Linked DNA regions of Homo sapiens. The protein of the gene in region 1 purifies or fractionates together with the protein of each later gene. This does not show direct contact. Each region holds a gene or a part of one and is shown on either strand. Other genes may lie near its edges.

Evidence for each region. The genes of interacting proteins can lie anywhere in the genome.
Region 2: the proteins of PRKCQ (region 1) and IKBKB purify together in Homo sapiens (affinity purification with western blotting; 4 studies listed by BioGRID). This does not show direct contact.
Region 3: the proteins of PRKCQ (region 1) and ZNF24 purify together in Homo sapiens (affinity purification with mass spectrometry; 2 studies listed by BioGRID and IntAct, with this or other methods). This does not show direct contact.

What each region holds. Positions count from the first base shown.
Region 1 is NC_000010.11:6,492,588-6,501,346, reverse strand, and holds part of PRKCQ (protein kinase C theta type), read left to right. Parts: intron 1-2,788; coding exon 2,789-2,951; intron 2,952-4,095; coding exon 4,096-4,127; intron 4,128-4,226; coding exon 4,227-4,312; intron 4,313-7,970; exon of another isoform or gene 7,971-8,288; intron 8,289-8,759. UniProt on the Homo sapiens protein: Calcium-independent, phospholipid- and diacylglycerol (DAG)-dependent serine/threonine-protein kinase that mediates non-redundant functions in T-cell receptor (TCR) signaling, including T-cells activation, proliferation, differentiation and survival, by mediating activation of multiple transcription factors such as NF-kappa-B, JUN, NFATC1 and NFATC2.
Region 2 is NC_000008.11:42,330,239-42,332,960, forward strand, and holds the end of IKBKB (inhibitor of nuclear factor kappa-B kinase subunit beta), read left to right. Parts: exon of another isoform or gene 1-101; intron 102-675; coding exon 676-741; 3' UTR 742-2,222; downstream 2,223-2,722.
Region 3 is NC_000018.10:35,334,421-35,341,483, reverse strand, and holds part of ZNF24 (zinc finger protein 24), read left to right. Parts: intron 1-750; 5' UTR 751-833; coding exon 834-1,253; intron 1,254-1,507; coding exon 1,508-1,655; intron 1,656-2,410; coding exon of another isoform or gene 2,411-2,424; exon of another isoform or gene 2,425-3,713; coding exon 3,714-4,252; 3' UTR 4,253-7,063. UniProt on the Homo sapiens protein: Transcription factor required for myelination of differentiated oligodendrocytes. Required for the conversion of oligodendrocytes from the premyelinating to the myelinating state.

The sequences.
Region 1 (8,759 bases):
TATTCCCAAGACATACTGCATTATGCATCTTCCCCAATCTTGAACATCATCTCTTCTTTTTTTTCACCTTTTTACCTCCTTGAGTTTTTTTTTCTTTCCCTAACACATTCCTTTAAAAAGTAGTTTATATTTATCAGTTTCTTTTTCTTCCCTTCTACTTCTATTCTTAGACCCTAAGACTCTGGGTCTCCAAGATTATGAGTTCTCACAAGTGGTTCCTGCTTCTTAGCCTTCAATTTCCTTGATATCTCTCTATCATACAATGCTGAAAACTTCATTTCTTTTCAGCTTGCCTGATGTGATATTGTCCAGGTTTTCCTCTTAATTTTTCAGCTGCCTCTTCTTGGTCTCTTTTGCCATTTCTTTTCCTACCTCCTAAAAAATATGGGTACACATATCTCGGAGCCTATTCCACACCATCATATATTGCCTCTTAAGGTTGGCTGTTCTGTGCCTGTGCCACGTCTCCCTGACTTGACTGTTAGCCATGCAAGGGTGAGGAATAATGTGTTTCTTCAGCACACTCAGCAAGGCAGTTTACTCACAGCTGCTCAGGAAACTTGTAATTTGATTGACTACAAACAAGTGATAGGTTAGACCACATAAATAGATTAGAATCCATTAGTATAAAAGAAAAAAAATTGCAAAAACCAATGAGCTCATTCAAACCAGTAAATAGAGAAATAAATATAGTCAATACAAAAAAAATTAAAGAATTCTATGTTTTTACATTTATTCTTTTGTAATGATTGAAATAGAGAATAATGAAAATCACAGAAAATAACAGGGTATTAATTCATTTCTAGAAATTCCTGATATTTTAAAAAAATTATAGTACTATAGTCTAATGTAGAAATTGTGTATATAACTATATATTTATAGTTTATAAAAATATAAACTATATGTAGACATATATGTATATAAACATATATGTATAGATATATGTATAAAATATGTTTAATATACATATAAACATATATGATTTTTACAGTAAAAACCTGTATAGGGTCCCCATAATAATTCACTTTCATTCCCTGCATTTAAAAGTGTATTTATACTTATTTTTATTTTATTTTATTTCATCTGGACCAAAATAGAAACAAGTCACATGTTATAAACAAATGACCTACTATACTAGTCACAAGTTGTAAATAGATTTGGACATTTAGACCAGAACTTGTGGAAGAAGGTGATTAACTCAGTGATCCTTAATTTAACCCCTCATTTACCAAGCCAAATCTATTATTTCCAGCCTAGTTCCAGGTAAAAAGACCAAAATTACCTACTCTTAAAGTATTAGGCAAAGTATTATGTCCCATCTGTGGAACTGTTAGAGGGTTACTGGAAATGCTTTTTGTCTGGAAGTTGGGGTTGCCATAAAACAAATCTGCGGACACTACAGAAAAGACTTCAGTCCTACAATGTGTCCTGGGATGTGGCTGGATTCCTGGGGGAGGTTTCTACCCACACAGCTCCTCCTTTGTCTACCTAGAGTGTTTCTAATCTAGCCACTGTTAGGGATTGGACAATAAGGTATCTTGGAAGATAATTTGCCCCAAACGCATTGTCAGGCTACTGCCACTGCTTAGCCACAATAGAAGAAATTTAGTTTGAATATTATTAACTCATTGTGAAATATGATGAACCTGCTTTTTAAATGAAACCTCAATGTTTTGTATTTGTAACAAAATAGAAGAAGTAATCCAAGAGTCTTCAAGCTATTACAAAATTATAACTCTGGGATTTAAATTCATTATCCTTATTTATTTATTCACATATTTATTTGTGTATCATTTTTGTTACAGCAGTGGATATTTTTATTTCTTTACTGTTCCTTGTGTTATTCTCTCTCACCTGCTGTGTCCACTGTGCTGTTTAACCATGACTGCCTTACAATTTGGTGTTTCATGAGGACCTGGGCTTCAGCAAGGGCATCCTGAGCATTCTCATAATTTGACTATCTTAGTTTTTCAACCCTTTGGAAAGATGTCATTCAGGTATAGGGCACTGTAAACAGTGACTATCCAAAGCACTTTCACCAATATTTATGAGCCCAGAGTAAAATGAATAGATTGAATCTGATGGTTTGATGCTGATGACTAGGTAATGCACAGGATTACCTAGACACCAAAAAAATGCAGTGAGCTATTAATTTTCTGGCCTTTTTCACATTGGTAAATATGGTTGGCAGCTGGTGTGTCTGATCACTGTGGACATCAGGAACCAGGACACAATGTCCCAAAGTTCCTTTCTCCTCACACAAAATCCTGGTCAGCTCCCCCTAGTCTACTCCAGCATGTCTCCAACAACCTGCTATAAAGCATCCTGGCACCTCTGAAATGCTGTTCCCAAGAGGCTGTCAGTAACCATGTGATTCTCTAGAATTACAGACAGGAAAGCCTTTGCCACTTCCTGCCTTTTCTGACTGAGTCATCATTGATGGTGACAAAGAGAGGTTGATAGATCCCTTCAAAGTTCTAATCTCTGGTTTTGAAACTTGAAGAGGATATATCGCTCAGCCCAGTCAAAGAGGAGCGAAGGATTGAGCCAGCAATCCAACATTGTTTTCACCCTCTAACAATATGCCCTATGATGAATCTGTGTTGTAGAATTTGAGGAAAGATGCTTAGTGTGGTACCCACCATAATGAGTACCTGGAATGTTACAGCAGGTACTCAGAGCTGGTCCTCCTCCATCCCTTGCCCATCTCCCTCCCCTCCTGACCCAGCTTAGAATAGGAGTCGTCCTTTTGCAGAACTTCACTTTCTTCCCCTCTCTCTTCCTGTAGACACAAAGGACATGAATGAATTTGAGACGGAAGGCTTCTTTGCTTTGCATCAGCGCCGGGGTGCCATCAAGCAGGCAAAGGTCCACCACGTCAAGTGCCACGAGTTCACTGCCACCTTCTTCCCACAGCCCACATTTTGCTCTGTCTGCCACGAGTTTGTCTGGTACAGTAACTTGGCATCTCCCTCCAAGCTTCGGGTTATGCATTTTGTTGCGTCTTCTTAATCCTCTACGCTGGCATGCTCCACTGTGGGGGGTGTGCTGGAGTAAATGCTACCTCAGCGTTGTCAGGGACCTTGCCTGAACTGAGAAGGTTCAAATGGTGTGATCCAATAAAAGAGGTGCATGAGGAAGCCAGGTCTAGTCAGGAAAAATGCCCATGGGATTTTAGTTTCTGCCTCAATGGGGGGGCTATTGGGGGTAAGTGGGAAGAAACAGAAGTGAAAGGTATCTTTATTACAAACAGTTTTCCAGTTTTATAGTCAAAACTTCCCCCACCTAATGGCCCAACCCTGCTGGTGCTACTTTTTCCAGCAGGCAGCACTCTGCCATTGTAGCTAATGGTTTAAATGCTTATGAGGCTCTTGGGTATCTTAATAGCCATCAAACAGATCAGTTTAAACCTCAGTAACCACATAGCAAAGGCTATGACAGAGTGGAGACTTGAAATAACTCCTGTTTCTGGCTCTCAGCATCCTAGCCTATTAAGGGATACTCTTCCCTTTAGGCTACTGCAGAAACTGTTAAAGCACAGCTCCTGTGTAACCAGGGTATCCACATGCCAGATCGACTTGGCGGGTTTTCATCAGCCTGCTTTCGTCTAATCACTTGAACCTCCTTTCTCTCTAATCATGGATGTCACTCAGGAATCGGTCCTGCATGTGAGACTTTGTTGGTTGCAAATATTCTCAGATGCTCAGAAAGAGGAAATAAAATGTTACAGATGTCTTTGTTCGTCTGTAGTGAGCTCAGCGAGGCCATGAATTTTTAAATCTAGCACAGGGAAACGTGCTACGAAGAGTCTGTGATGCATGCATTTTCATTCATGCATTTTAATCTCTATATGTTTGGAAAATACAAGGATGATAAATCAGCCAGTTCTCATTTATTTAATTATCAAACTTTTTAAAACGCAGCTTCAAATGAAAAACACTCTGTTAATACTCTTGGCAAATGATACAACAGGGCTGCTGATCAGAAACTGCTCTGTGATCTTAGGGGGTTATGAGATCTCATCCATCTCTTAAATGCTGTTGGTGCTGATGTTGATGCCAACATTGAAATAAATCAGCGTGTGCTTTATTACAGGGGCCTGAACAAACAGGGCTACCAGTGCCGACGTAAGTAAGAGGGTTTTGGTTGCATTACCATCATTCTTTTTATTTAGTTATTCCTTAGGCTATGAAAATCTTAAGCTGTGATTTTTTTCTTCTTTTCAGAATGCAATGCAGCAATTCACAAGAAGTGTATTGATAAAGTTATAGCAAAGTGCACAGGATCAGCTATCAATAGCCGAGAAACCATGGTGAGTATTTACACTCCTCTTTGACGTGCAGTGATTTTTATCAGAACGTTAAATGTTACAGCCCACGAATTCTTCAGAATAATGCCAGAACTTGCATCCTCCCATTTATCAGTGAACATCCATCTCCCCAAAACTCTTTCCTCTTCAATAATGATTCTTACTGAATTACCCAAACCAGAGGATGAATTAGAAATTAGCCAGGCCTGGTGGCATAAGCCTGTAATCCCAGCTACTCAGGAGGTTGAGGCAGGAGAATCTCTTGAATTCGGGAGGCGGAGGTTGCAGTGAACCAGGACCATGCCACCGCACTCCAGTCTGGGCAACAGAGTGAGACTCCATCTCAAAAAGAAAAGAAAAAAAAAAAAGAAATCTGCACTTGTACCTCCTAAATATACACAAATTATATACAGGAAGAATTTTCATTGCTCTACTTTTCCAGAAAAATGGCATAGAAAGTGGCCAGAAAGCATAGTTTAGATTAATTATATGAGAATAATCCTTGTGGCACCCCCAGCTAGAAGTGACAGTAAAAGAGTAAATAAAGGCAAATGATGATAAGATACAGCAACATGGCATTTACAAGGTTAGAGATAATAACAGAGGCATAATTTTATGTTGAGAAGCAAATATTTCTTTTAGAGTAAACGTTGAGGTATAATCGGAAGACAAATTACATTTTACCTAATGGAGGGGGGAAACTGGGCTAGCACATGGGCAGTGTATCATTATGAATTTTAAATTTTTAAAAATTTATATGTATTTAGGAGGTACAAGTGCAGATTTCTTTTTTCAATTTTTTTTTTTTTTTTTTTTTTTTTGAGATGGAATCTTACTCTGTTTACCCAGGCTGGAGTGCAGTGGTGTCATCTTGGTTCACTGCAACTTCCACCTTCCAGGATCAAGAGATTCTCCTGCCTCAGCCTCCTGAGTAGCTGGGATTACGGGCATATGCCACCACGCCTGGCTAATTTTCGTATTTTTAGTAGAGATGCGGTTTCACCATGTTGGCCAGGCTGGTCTCAAACTCCTGACCTCAGGTGATTCACCTGTCTTGGCCTTCCAAAGTGCTGGGATTATAGGCATGAGCCACCACACCTGGCCTACAAGTACAGATTTCTTCTATGCCTATATTACCTGGTGGGGAAGTCTGGGCTTCTAGTGAACCCACCATCCGAAGAGTGAATATTACACCCAATAGGTAATTTTCAATCCTCCCTCCCTCCCATCCTGCCATCTGTAGTCTCCAATGTCTATTACTCCACTCTGTCACTCATTATGAAATCTTTTGACTTCCTTCTCCCACCGTTTCCTTTTTCATTCCACAAATCCTCACTGGGTATCTGATTCATGGAAGATACCGCATTCTTCCAATGACAGCATAACACAAAACAGACGTGGTCCTGCGAAGTTGGAGAAACAGATAATAAACAGCTATGTATGGCTTCGATTTATATTAAGTGCTACAAAGATAGTGAACAAGGTGCAAGGTGGAGAGTAAGCATGTGGCCTACTGAGACTCTGTGGTCCGGGAATCTCCCCAACGGAGGGAACATTGAAACTGACAGCTGAAGAGTGACAGAGCTGGTTAGGTGAAGAGCAGGAGGAAGGAAGCTCCTTACAGGCTGGAAGACCCTGCTGAGGGAGAGTCCAATGTGTTCCAGGAACTGAAATGGGACCAGTGTGGTGACAGCTGCAAGGGCTGCGCAGACTGGAAGCCCACACTGGGGAAGGCACCAAGGCCTGGGTCATGCGGGGTTTCTTTGGAGCCTGGAAAAATGATTGTATTTTGTGCAACTTGTAGTAGAAAGCCCACTTTGGGATGCTGTAGTAGAAATAGTGCGTTGAGATGTGAAAGTGAAACCAGAGGAGATGGAAGGAATCCTCCAAGCGGGGAGGTTGGTGGTTTATACCAGTGAGACGTCAGCAGAGGTGGAGCAAAGGGGCAGGTTCTCAGGTGATTTTGATGTTAGAAATGACTGGATTTGCCAAAAGATTAGATGAAAGAGGTGGATATAAGGATGATGCCGCAGGTTCTGGCTTCTGCCCGAGGCCGAGCAGTGTGGTAGATAACAGAGCCACGACGGAGTGAAGAAGACTGGAAGGAGAGATGAATTTTTCCAGTTTGGACATGTTGAGTCGGAGAGGTGGACATCCAAGTTGAAGCATCAAATAGACAATTTCACATGAGCTTGGAATTCCTCTGGGACAAGGGCCCAACCCTATAAATTTGACAGTGACCATCATATAGGTAGATTTTAAAGTTGCTGAAGAGATTGCCTAGTGAGGAAATAGAGAAAGTTCAGGACTGACTACAAAGGAATCTAAAATGAGATGTTAGGTAGAAGATAAAGGACAGAGATAGACATTGAGAAACTGGGCTCAGAGACCGCTCCTCCTACACCCAGAGTCTATGAAGTTACAGAAACCAGAAGAAGAAGAGGTGGGTTGTGTTCTGTGCAGTTGAGGTGTTGAAATTGAGGCCCACGTGCAGATCTTCACAGGCTTAAATCAGAGAAATGTCAGGGGCATCTTGGAGGCATTAGTCTGATTGACCTGCAGAAGGGTGACTGAGGTGATGACATGAAAACAACCTGTAAGTTGATATTATGAAGAAGGTGAACCATGAAGGAGATGATGGACAGAGAACAGTGGCTGGGAAATGAGACCCCAAGGATGGCAAGTGCTCCCGTGGCCAGGGAGAGATGGATAAAGCTGGAGAGACAGATAAACAAAACAGTCAAGTCTGTTGGCAGGAAGCGAAGAGGGCCTGAGCTCTGGTGGAGACTGGTCCCTGGAGCTTCCACAGTTTAACCGGAAGGGAGTAGGGCAAGACAGTTGCTGATGGGGATGGGTGTGGAGCTTTGGTGATGGGCACACAAAGGCGCTTCCCTTAGACTGCATGTGTCCCCCATGGAGTTTGATGGCTGGAGGAAGGAAAAGAGAAAGCAACAAGTGCCTTCGAGGAAAAAGGAAGATCTATGAGATAATTATCTTAGAGAAAGCAAGGTGACTCGTGAAAAGCAGTCAGACTGTGGAGCAGAGCTGAAAGTCCATTTGAATTTGACGGAGTCAGCCTGCTCAGGAGTATGATTTTCTCCAACAAAGGGGCAGGTTCAGAGAAGGCGAAGTGGCTGGGTTTTTCCAGAGTAGAATTTCTCCTAACATTTAGAAGCAGAAGGAGATAAACTTGTGCTAACCGGTGATTCTGCTAAGACTCAAAGAGGTTAAAGTAGTTTGTTCATGTTTGATCACCTGTACGTGGCAGAGCTGGTACTAAAATTAAGATCACAATCTCTCAGACCATGTTTTTGCTTGCTTAGATCAAATTTTCACCTCCCAGACTTCTTCCTTTACTTGATGCCTTCAGCTTTTCTAGAAAAAAACGCAAATCTCTGAATCACTGTTAACCTCAATGACTAACAAAGTTCCTGGTACAAAGTCTTGAGAAACTGTCAGCTACATAAATAAATGTCTGTGATATTATCTTCTCCCAGGATATTTTGATTTCTTGTTCACTCAAGGGGACATCATCTTTGGGATTCTTTTGTTCCTCTACCCCTGGAGCAGTATTGTCCGATAGAAATAAATAGAATGAGGGCTACATGTGTAATTTTACATTTCCAAGTAGCCCACATTAAATAAAGGAAAAAGCAATGGGTGAAATTAATTTTAATAATACATTTTATTTAATCCAATCTGTTCAAATATCATTTCAACAAAAAATCGACATTTGAAAAATTCAGATATCTTAAGTAATTTTATACAAAAGTCTTCAAACTCCAGGATGTATTATTTTACACGTCCAGCACATCTCAACTCTAACTCACCACCTTTCAAGTGTTCGCCAGCCCCATGTAGCTCATTGGTTTTCATACTGGAAAGCGTGTACATAGCGTCTTCATCAGCCATGGTGTCTTGAGCTGTTTGCCCCTGCATTCAAGATTCGAAGTGGTCCCCTTCCAGCCTGGACCTTGACCTATTAATTGTCCATATTTAAACTGTGGAATATAAGTGAGTCCCGAAAATTATTTTTTTCTTGGTTGAAAATGGCTGTAGTAAGTGCTGAGCAATTTTTAATCGATTCTACACAGGCTTTCTAAAGAACCAACGCTGACCAGTACCCCTGGCGGGAACGTTAGATCTATTGCTGTGCTGATGAATAAGGCATCTTTGCTATGCACCTTCCCAAAGGAACTGTTGAATTAGAAACTTCTGCAGAGATTATAAACCTTTAGAAAATAAAGCATTTTATCCTGCACAAGAATATTCACATTCTTACCAGGAATCCAACTATCCAAGTGTTTTGTTGTTCCTGCAATAAGTTTGATTTAAACTCTGGAAAACTGTTTTTTAAAAAAATTCCATGTCGATCACTAGCATCCCTCTCCCACTCCCCTCTCCCTACCCCGATAAGCCTTCACATTTATTTTGAGACAGAAAAGAGAAT
Region 2 (2,722 bases), on another chromosome or scaffold:
GCCAATTCAAAGAAAAGATCCTGTACAGTTTGAATATGTAACTTAGCTTAAGAGTACCCTGCAGTCACAAGATTTATTAATAAAAGGGTTTGGCTTTTTAATTTGTATTTGTTTAATTTATTTGTTTTATGCAGCCTGGGTCTTGCTATGTTGCCCAGGCTGGTCTTGAACTCCTGGCCTCAAGCGATCCGCTCGCCTCTGCCTCCCAAAGTGCTGGAACTATAGGCATGAGCCACCATACCCAGCCAATAAAGGGGTTTCAATATATTTCTTTTTATTTTTTATTTTTTGAGATGGAGTCTTGCTCTTTTGCCCAGGGTGGAGTGCAATGGCACGATCTCAGCTCACTGCAACCCCTACCTCCCAGGTTCAAGTGATTCTCCTGCCTCAGCCTCCTGAGTAGCTGGGACTATAGGAGCTTGCCACCACGCCTGGCTAATTTTGTATTTTTAGTAGAAATGGGGTTTCACCATTTTGGCCAGGCTGGTCTCGAACTCCTGACCTCATGATCTGCCCACCTTGGCCTCCCAAAGTGTTGGGATTATAGGCATGAGCCACTGTGCCTGGCTGGGTTTTAGTATATTTCTCAATTGTCCTGATTTCCTCCTGAAGAGGAAAAATAACCTGAAATGTGTTGGTGGCTGTTGTTTTTTTAACATGTCTGTTGACTTTCAGGCCCTAGACTGGAGCTGGTTACAGACGGAAGAAGAAGAGCACAGCTGCCTGGAGCAGGCCTCATGATGTGGGGGGACTCGACCCCCTGACATGGGGCAGCCCATAGCAGGCCTTGTGCAGTGGGGGGACTCGACCCCCTGACATGGGGCTGCCTGGAGCAGGCCGCGTGACGTGGGGCTGCCTGGCCGCGGCTCTCACATGGTGGTTCCTGCTGCACTGATGGCCCAGGGGTCTCTGGTATCCAGATGGAGCTCTCGCTTCCTCAGCAGCTGTGACTTTCACCCAGGACCCAGGACGCAGCCCTCCGTGGGCACTGCCGGCGCCTTGTCTGCACACTGGAGGTCCTCCATTACAGAGGCCCAGCGCACATCGCTGGCCCCACAAACGTTCAGGGGTACAGCCATGGCAGCTCCTTCCTCTGCCGTGAGAAAAGTGCTTGGAGTACGGTTTGCCACACACGTGACTGGACAGTGTCCAATTCAAATCTTTCAGGGCAGAGTCCGAGCAGCGCTTGGTGACAGCCTGTCCTCTCCTGCTCTCCAAAGGCCCTGCTCCCTGTCCTCTCTCACTTTACAGCTTGTGTTTCTTCTGGATTCAGCTTCTCCTAAACAGACAGTTTAATTATAGTTGCGGCCTGGCCCCATCCTCACTTCCTCTTTTTATTTCACTGCTGCTAAAATTGTGTTTTTACCTACTACTTTGGTGGTTGTCCTCTTTTCGGCAAAGTTGGAGCGAGTGCCAAGCTCTCCATCTGTGGTCCTTTCTGCCAAGAGCGACTCATAGTAACCAGGATGGGAGAGCAGCTGCCTTATTCTGAATCCCAAAAATTACTTGGGGGTGATTGTCACAGAGGAGGGACAGAAAGGGTATCTGCTGACCACCAGCCTGCCTACCCATGCCCATGTCTCCATTCCTGCTCAAGCGTGTGTGCTGGGCCGGGGAGTCCCTGTCTCTCACAGCATCTAGCAGTATTATTAAATGGATTCATTTTAAAAATAGCTCCTATATTTTGTAACATGTCTCAAACACTCATACTGGGTTCCACAATCCACTGTTAGAATACCTATGGTTAGGGCTTCTGAACTAAAATAATGGAAAATTTTAACAATTTGTATAGTGCCTGGATCATTACTAGTGCCATAACCCTGCTTCTTCAACATTTCACAGAACTTCTCTTTTATATAAAGGCAAGAGCACAAAATGAGTTCAGATGATCACAAACAGGTGAGTTTTGTTGGAGAAGAAAGTTGGAGTAGGAGACTTTCACAAGTGGTTTCCATGGAGATAGAATGAAGCATTCTGTGGTCAAGTAAGTTTAGGGAGCTATTCATGTTTCACTTGCTTTGTGGAGATTCACACTATGCACTGGGAAAGTATCTGAAAAGTCTTATAATAAAGAAACAGGCTTAACTTTGTGTAAGAACACTGTTTATCAATGTCATTTGGCTATAGAAACATTTTCTCCTGCTGATTGTGTGTGTGAAACATGTATTAACATTCCAATGAACTAGCATTTAATAAAGCACAATTTTGGAAACCCTGGTAAATGACAGTGGGAAATAACACCCGAAAGGCAAGGACGGGCAGATTGGGGAGGGAAAGGATGTTGGGCTAAGGGCTGTGAGCTTATGTTACAGGCAACTGAGCCACTGAAGAATTTTGACGAAGAAAATGCCAACCAAAGCAGTCATTTTAAAAGTTTATGGCTGTTCAGTTACAGGACAAGTTGTGAAAAGAAAGAAAAAAAATGGAAAAAAAAAAAGTTTATGGCTGAAACAGTGTAATTGATTAAAAAGTGAAAATCCAGGCCGGGCGCGGTGGCTCACGCCTGTAATTCCAACACTTTGGGAGGCTGAGGCAGGCAGATCACCTGAGGTCGGGAGTTCGAGACCAGCCTGACCAATATGGAGAAACCCCGTCTCTACTAAAAATACAAAAGCCAGGCGTGGTGGGACATGCCTGTAATCCCAGCTACTCGGGAGGCTGAGGCAGGAGAATCGCTTGAACCTAGGAGGCAGAGGTTGCAGTGAGCAGAGATTGTGCCATT
Region 3 (7,063 bases), on another chromosome or scaffold:
ACACTCTAAAATAATATAGTATAAAAAGTATAGTAAATACATAAACCAGTAACATAGTCGTTTATTATTGTTATCAAGTTTTATGTACCATACATAACTGTATGTGTTAAACTGGCAACACAGCAGGTTTGTTTACACCAGCATCACCACAAACATGTGAGTAATGTATTGACCTTACAACAGCTACAGTGTCACTAGGTGAATCTTGAATTTTTCAGCTCCATTATAATCTTATGGGAGCACTGTCATCTAGGTGGTCCTTCATTGACCCAAACATCATTTTGTAGTGCATGACTGTGTTGGGTTTTTTTTAGGCCATCTAGTCTGTTGAAACTACTCAACTCTGCTATTGTAGCGTGAAGTATGAGTAAGTACAATTATTTATGGACACAGTCATGTTAATTTCATATCATTTTCACGTGTCATGAGGTATTCATTTGATTTTGGGGAGCTCCATTCCCTAAATATCATTAGGTATTCATTTGATTTTAGGGATCTCCGCTCCGTAAGGCACTGTGATGAAGACCACAGCCATTTAAAAATGTGAAAATTATTGTTGGTGCAAGTGTTGTACAGAAATGGGTGGCAGGCTAGATTTGGCCGTGAAGCTGTAGTTTGCCAATTCCTGGTGTAGGTTATTGATTGGAATTTTTAACTCAAAGAACAAGTATCTTTTACTTTTACCAGTATAAGTTCAAATTCTTAGGATATTTTTGCTTATTTATATATCTTTTATTTCTTATGCCTCAGGAGTGCCTGTGAAGAAAACGGGGTATTGCCCTGAGGCTTATATTCTGCCTCAGTTGTCTTTTCTTGAAATATTATAAATCAGAATGTCTGCACAGTCAGTGGAAGAAGATTCAATACTTATCATCCCAACTCCAGATGAAGAGGAAAAAATTCTGAGAGTGAAGTTGGAGGAGGATCCTGATGGCGAAGAGGGATCAAGTATCCCCTGGAACCATCTCCCAGACCCAGAGATTTTCCGACAGCGATTCAGGCAGTTTGGATACCAGGATTCACCTGGGCCCCGTGAGGCTGTGAGCCAGCTCCGAGAACTTTGCCGTCTGTGGCTCAGGCCAGAGACGCACACAAAAGAACAAATCTTGGAGCTGGTAGTGCTGGAGCAGTTTGTTGCCATCCTACCCAAAGAGCTACAGACTTGGGTTCGAGATCATCATCCAGAGAATGGAGAGGAGGCAGTGACAGTGCTGGAGGATTTGGAGAGTGAACTTGATGACCCTGGACAACCGGTGAGCCTGCTTGTGTCATTTCCTGTGTCAGAAGCACTGGCATAGGTAGTAGGCAAAGCTGCTGAATTAATTCCACTCAACTAAGTTAGAATTATGTTTATGCCTTTTCCCCCATTCCCCTACCACTCCTTGTTATCTGTGCCGCTTTGCCATCTAGGCTTCTGCAGTATTTGTTTCATGGGGTTTCTCTTACGTGTTTTTAGTTCTGATTCTCATTACAGTTCCTTCTCTGAATCAAATCTTTCTGTTTCCAGGTTTCTCTCCGTCGACGAAAACGGGAAGTACTAGTAGAAGACATGGTATCTCAAGAAGAAGCTCAGGGATTACCAAGTTCTGAGCTTGATGCTGTGGAGAACCAGCTCAAGTGGGCATCCTGGGAGCTCCATTCCCTAAGGCACTGTGGTGAGGACCAGAACTCTGTGTGGGCTAGAGGGTGAAAGAGAGTATAGGCCTTTTGTTCAGAACTTTGCTTGTTCTCACTGGTGGGGGGATCATATCACTCTTAATCTAATATCTCAGTTTTTTTCTGATTAAGTTGATTTTGCTGGCCTCAGACCTTTTATTCCTAGACATTAACATCTTCAGCCTTTTCTTCCCTTTCAGTCTCCTTCCTAAAAAGAGTTGCCCATGTCAGGCTAGCATTTGCCTTACTTTGAGCCAGCACCCACCCATGGACCAAGTCCCTCTATTTTGCATTCAGTATTACTTGTCATCTGTTTTACATCCTTTTACTTTCAATCTCCTGCCTAATTCCATTGGTACAGTAAGCTTACCTGAAAACCTCTTCTAATCTCTTTGTTGTATATCACTGAAATCTTTCTAAATATTTATTTCTGATTTCCTTCAACGTCTACCTAGAGTCATTTTCTTCTAAGAAGCTTCTTTTGTAGAAATATTTGGAGTAATTTTTTTCCTTTTTCTAAGTATTTATGCAAAAAAAGCCTCCTTAGCTATAACATGCTTTAAATGCAGAAAAATCTTTTTTAAAAGCTCAAAGTTGTATTAATTCACGAGACCAGTCTTTCCCAATATATTAGCCATTAACACCATATACTTATGTGTATCCTTTGATATGGCCCAGTATATTCCTAAAACTGCTAGATTGCTTTCTCATGTTTATGTGAACTAAAATGAAATTTTGTTTGACTCTGCTTTAGTAATCATTCCTTGAAGTAGTTGGAGATGGTGCTGGTATGCCACTGAATGAGGTCTGAGCAGGTTTTCTTCACATCTGAGGGGACAGTGCCAGCCAGTCAACTTTTGGGGTGGGGCTGAAGTCTGCTGAAAATCTGCAGTTTTACATGTTTCATGGGACATTCTTCTGTGCAATAAAGTTTGAGAAGTATCATTCTTGATATATGGGGCTGATATTTTCAACTTCTCATCATCTGAATTTTAGAGTGACTTTTCACCTGCGTTCCTTATTTCAGCTGTCTAGTCTCTTCCACACTTGGGAATTTCTGTTTCCTGTGTGCCGTTTGTCTCCACTTAATCTTCACGCTCCTCTGTTTTTCAAGTCTCCAAGCCTCACTATCCTCCTCTAACCTTTCAGTCTCTCTCTCTTAGCCTTATCTCCTGACTTGATCTTTTTGTTAATTATTTACTGTTTTCCTCTTCGCTGAAGGCAGTTGCTAACCCTATATGAACTGGATCTTTACTCCTTAAGGCATGAAGTTTTAGAAAAGTCTTAAATGACACTTGCTGTTATCTCTGCCTGCGTGTGAGTGATGCTAACCCATGTTGGTAATTCAGGCTTTTCTTTCATTGGACACGTTTCACTGAGGCTTAGAAATAACGATTTTTCTAAGTACCATGACAAATACCACATGGGAGAAGCTGCTTTTATTGGAAAACTTTCATTTATTAGGGGCATACTGAATTTTTATGTCATGTCTTTGGTTAACACAGGAGGCCCCCAGCTTATCTTCAGCCCCTTCTTGTCAAGACTCCTGTGTTCTGCTTTTAGGCTAACATTGGCTGTGACCTGACTTGGCTTGTTCATTTCAGAAATAGCCACTTTCTGACATGTTTTTCTAATTTACATCTTTGTATTTTGATGTAATTTCTCCCTTTCTCAAAGTAAAAGAACATTATAATGATTTCCTAGTGGCCAATTTTATTTTATTTTTATTCTTACAAAGTTTCATCCATACCTAGCCACATCATTTTGACTATCTCCCTAACCATCTTAGAATCTACCATCTTTCTGACCTTTGTTTTCTGACTACCATTTGTAAACCACTTGCCTATGTTTTATTCAGATATCCCTTATATCATGATGTTATACTGTTATTCAGAGTAATTTCATTTTTTCTTTTTTGAGAATAGGCCTTAACACCAGTGTCAGAGTGGTTTATAGATGTGTGCTAGCTATTTTAGTTCATTAAAAAAAAAATTTTTTTTAGGTTTCTTTTCCCTTAATAGATAATGAATGATATTTACATTTTCTGTTTATTTCAGATGATGATGGTAGGACTGAAAATGGAGCACTAGCTCCAAAGCAGGAGCTTCCTTCAGCATTAGAATCCCATGAAGTTCCTGGCACTCTCAATATGGGTGTTCCTCAAATTTTTAAATATGGAGAAACCTGTTTCCCCAAGGGCAGGTTTGAAAGAAAGAGAAATCCCTCTCGAAAGAAACAACATATATGTGATGAATGTGGAAAACACTTCAGTCAGGGCTCAGCCCTTATTCTTCATCAAAGAATTCACAGTGGGGAGAAACCTTATGGATGTGTTGAGTGTGGGAAAGCATTCAGCCGAAGTTCCATTCTTGTGCAACACCAGAGAGTCCACACTGGAGAAAAACCTTACAAATGTCTTGAATGTGGGAAAGCCTTTAGCCAGAATTCGGGGCTTATTAATCATCAGAGAATCCATACTGGGGAGAAACCTTATGAATGCGTTCAGTGTGGGAAATCGTATAGTCAAAGCTCAAATCTTTTTAGACATCAGAGAAGACACAATGCAGAAAAACTTCTGAATGTTGTGAAAGTTTAAGAAATTGAAAAAAAAAAAAGAATCAGCACTCAGGTCTTTTTCTTCAGAAATGAAGACAAAATTTAAAATATGAAATGATGCAGAATAGTTTTTTCCCTATTGACTGTCAGAAAATCCACTGGGAAATGTAAAAATCTTCACTCACCATTATGATATTTATCTTGAAAGAAATGGTGTCATACCTGCCTAGAAACTGAAATTTTAAACTTAATTCAGGTCTTAATGCCTAAATTTTCCATGTGATGTTTATAGTCTGTATTACTTCTCCAAATAATGAACTACCTGATTCATTGTCCCTTTCTTGAAAGTTTCTTTTTTAAGACAAATACATTATTTCTGCATTGATCATTGAAATGTTCTTTATATGGATACATTCCCTTATATATTAAAAGGCAACAGGAATTACAAAGTCTGAAAACCATTTTAAACCATCTTTTAAAAATTTACCCTTATTTCCTTTTACCTAATTTGAATATGCATTTGAGAAAATAAGAGGATAAAGGATGGCTAAGAGCCTCAAAATGAACCATAAGATCTCAGATAAGAAGTGATGGTGATAAAACATCAAAAAGTGAATGGAACACCTTGATTGGGGAAGATATGCAAATACTTTGATCTAAGAATTGAAATGTATCAAGAATTTATATTTTGCCTGCAGGAAAATTCAAAAGCTACTCATCCTCTCTATAATTTGGAGTCATCTTACTAATGAAAATAATGTTTTCCCATATATTATTAAAAAGCATACAGTCTAAATAATAAACAGTTGTAAAATAATGAAGGTAGAAATTATAACACTAGGGAAAAATTTGTAGCGGATGGCAGTGTTGAAGGCAAATGTAAACATAAGGGTAATGGTCTGTCATGGCTTTTAGAAAAAGATGATAGAGTTCATCATTATTTTGCCTTCATCTTTGTTAAGGACAGAAAATTCCCTGACAGGTGGGCAAGTATCAGGTTACCTATTTTTTATTCCTTTGGTACAAAAGGGTTGAACGTCAGGCTAAAAAAGCAGCCATGCATTTATTATTAAACATTTTCTACCGACAAGGCACTGTGCTAGGTACTGTAATCCTACCATAAGTAGGTAGGTATTTCTTCCACTGTAAATCATAGGGGTTTGCTGTTTTATGTGAGTTAGCCTCTTCCCCTTGTCTGAGCATTCCTCAGGGGAGGTCACCTGTGAGGTTCCCAGAACTGTAGTTTTTTTTACCAGGGTGTTGTATTTGGAGGGGGAGGAGGACTCGGCTCAAAAGAGCTAGCTGGCTCTCCAGTGTTCAGAGGTGAGTCCACGATACTCTTACCACAATTTGGAAGTTTGTGAATCTTTTTAAAGAACTAATCAATCTCTAATAGCATTGAGGTTGTACCTACATATTAAGTTGAATGGACTGTTCTATTTAAAAAATAAACAACTAGACAATTAACTAGTTTATTAACCTATCACAATTGAATTTTTTTTTAATTTTCAGTCTTAACACATTTTTTAAAATGTATTAAAGTAATACATTGTAGTAGTAGGATTATATACTCCTTGGCTGAGAATTCCAAGTACTGTGGTTCTACTGTTTAGTGGAAAACTCTGGAAGTTAAAATATAGAATATGAGAGGAGGCTTTTTTATAATGGGCATCATTGTGTGGAAAATGACCCATGTGAATACAAATATTTCCTAGTTCAGAGATTTTGGTTATATCTGGTGCTTGGATCAAGTTTAAAAATGGAAGGTGAGATTTTGCATGAGCCTATTAAAAAGCATAGTAATAAATGCAAGGCCAGCTGGTGGAAAAGTGAGGCAGAATGGAGCTTGTTTATAGGTTTTCTGATAACAATTATAAAAAATGTGCTTTATAGATTAAGATTTATTGAAGTATAAATATGTAGTAATGATATAATGTATTTTAAGTTATACAAGAAAATGTAGGGACTTTTGTTTGGGTCTTTTTCTCTTTGTGGCTGAGGGGAAACAAGTCAGTGTCCAATAAAGCTGTAAACTCCTCTGCTCTAAGATAAATGATGTGATTTATTTATTTATAACTGGCTTCTTTCCAAGTAGGTTTTCAGGTGGCATATTTGGAAGACGGCTGGAATGACAGAATTCTTGTATCAGAGTAGGTAAGAAGGGAGCAACCTCTCAATGGCTATTATGTCATGCTTTTTAAGATCGTATGCGGTTCCTATATACAAGGAAGCTTCCCTGTGGTAGATTTGTCATAAATGCCAAAGATATTTGGTAATGTGAGTGTAGAAAAAGTAGTATGAGGGTTGGCAAATACTGTTTTTGTCTTGGCAGCTCTAATATCTGCATTGTTCAGAAAGGATTCTGAGGCTAAGGCAAAGCTCTGTGGGAAAAAGGGACTGGACCAAAAAAAACTGGATGGTGGCACACAAGAAGAGGAAATGATGAGATGTGTACTTTCTATCTCTGGTTAGGCTTAGTCCCCACTAGACAAATTGATTTTAAATACTATGTAGTGATTTTTAAATTCCATCCACACATTCATTACCCACACAGATAATCATAGAAATTTGGGGGAGTGCCTAGCTTCTGATGAAGTGGTGATATGGCAGTGCCAAGCAGTGGCATCGCCAGAGTATCTGTTTGGTTAGCAAATGAGCAGTCATTTTAGGTCATGCAGATTGCTGATATCTGCCCAGTAGCCACTGAGCATTTGCTGGTTTTTTCTTCTGGCTTTCTTGGAGGTTAAGCTCTCTGTAGTCATACCCAGTTGGTACTTGATCTTTAGCAATATGTCTCATATTCATGTAAATTGAAGGGAGGGTTACATGTACTGAAATAATCTGCATGCTA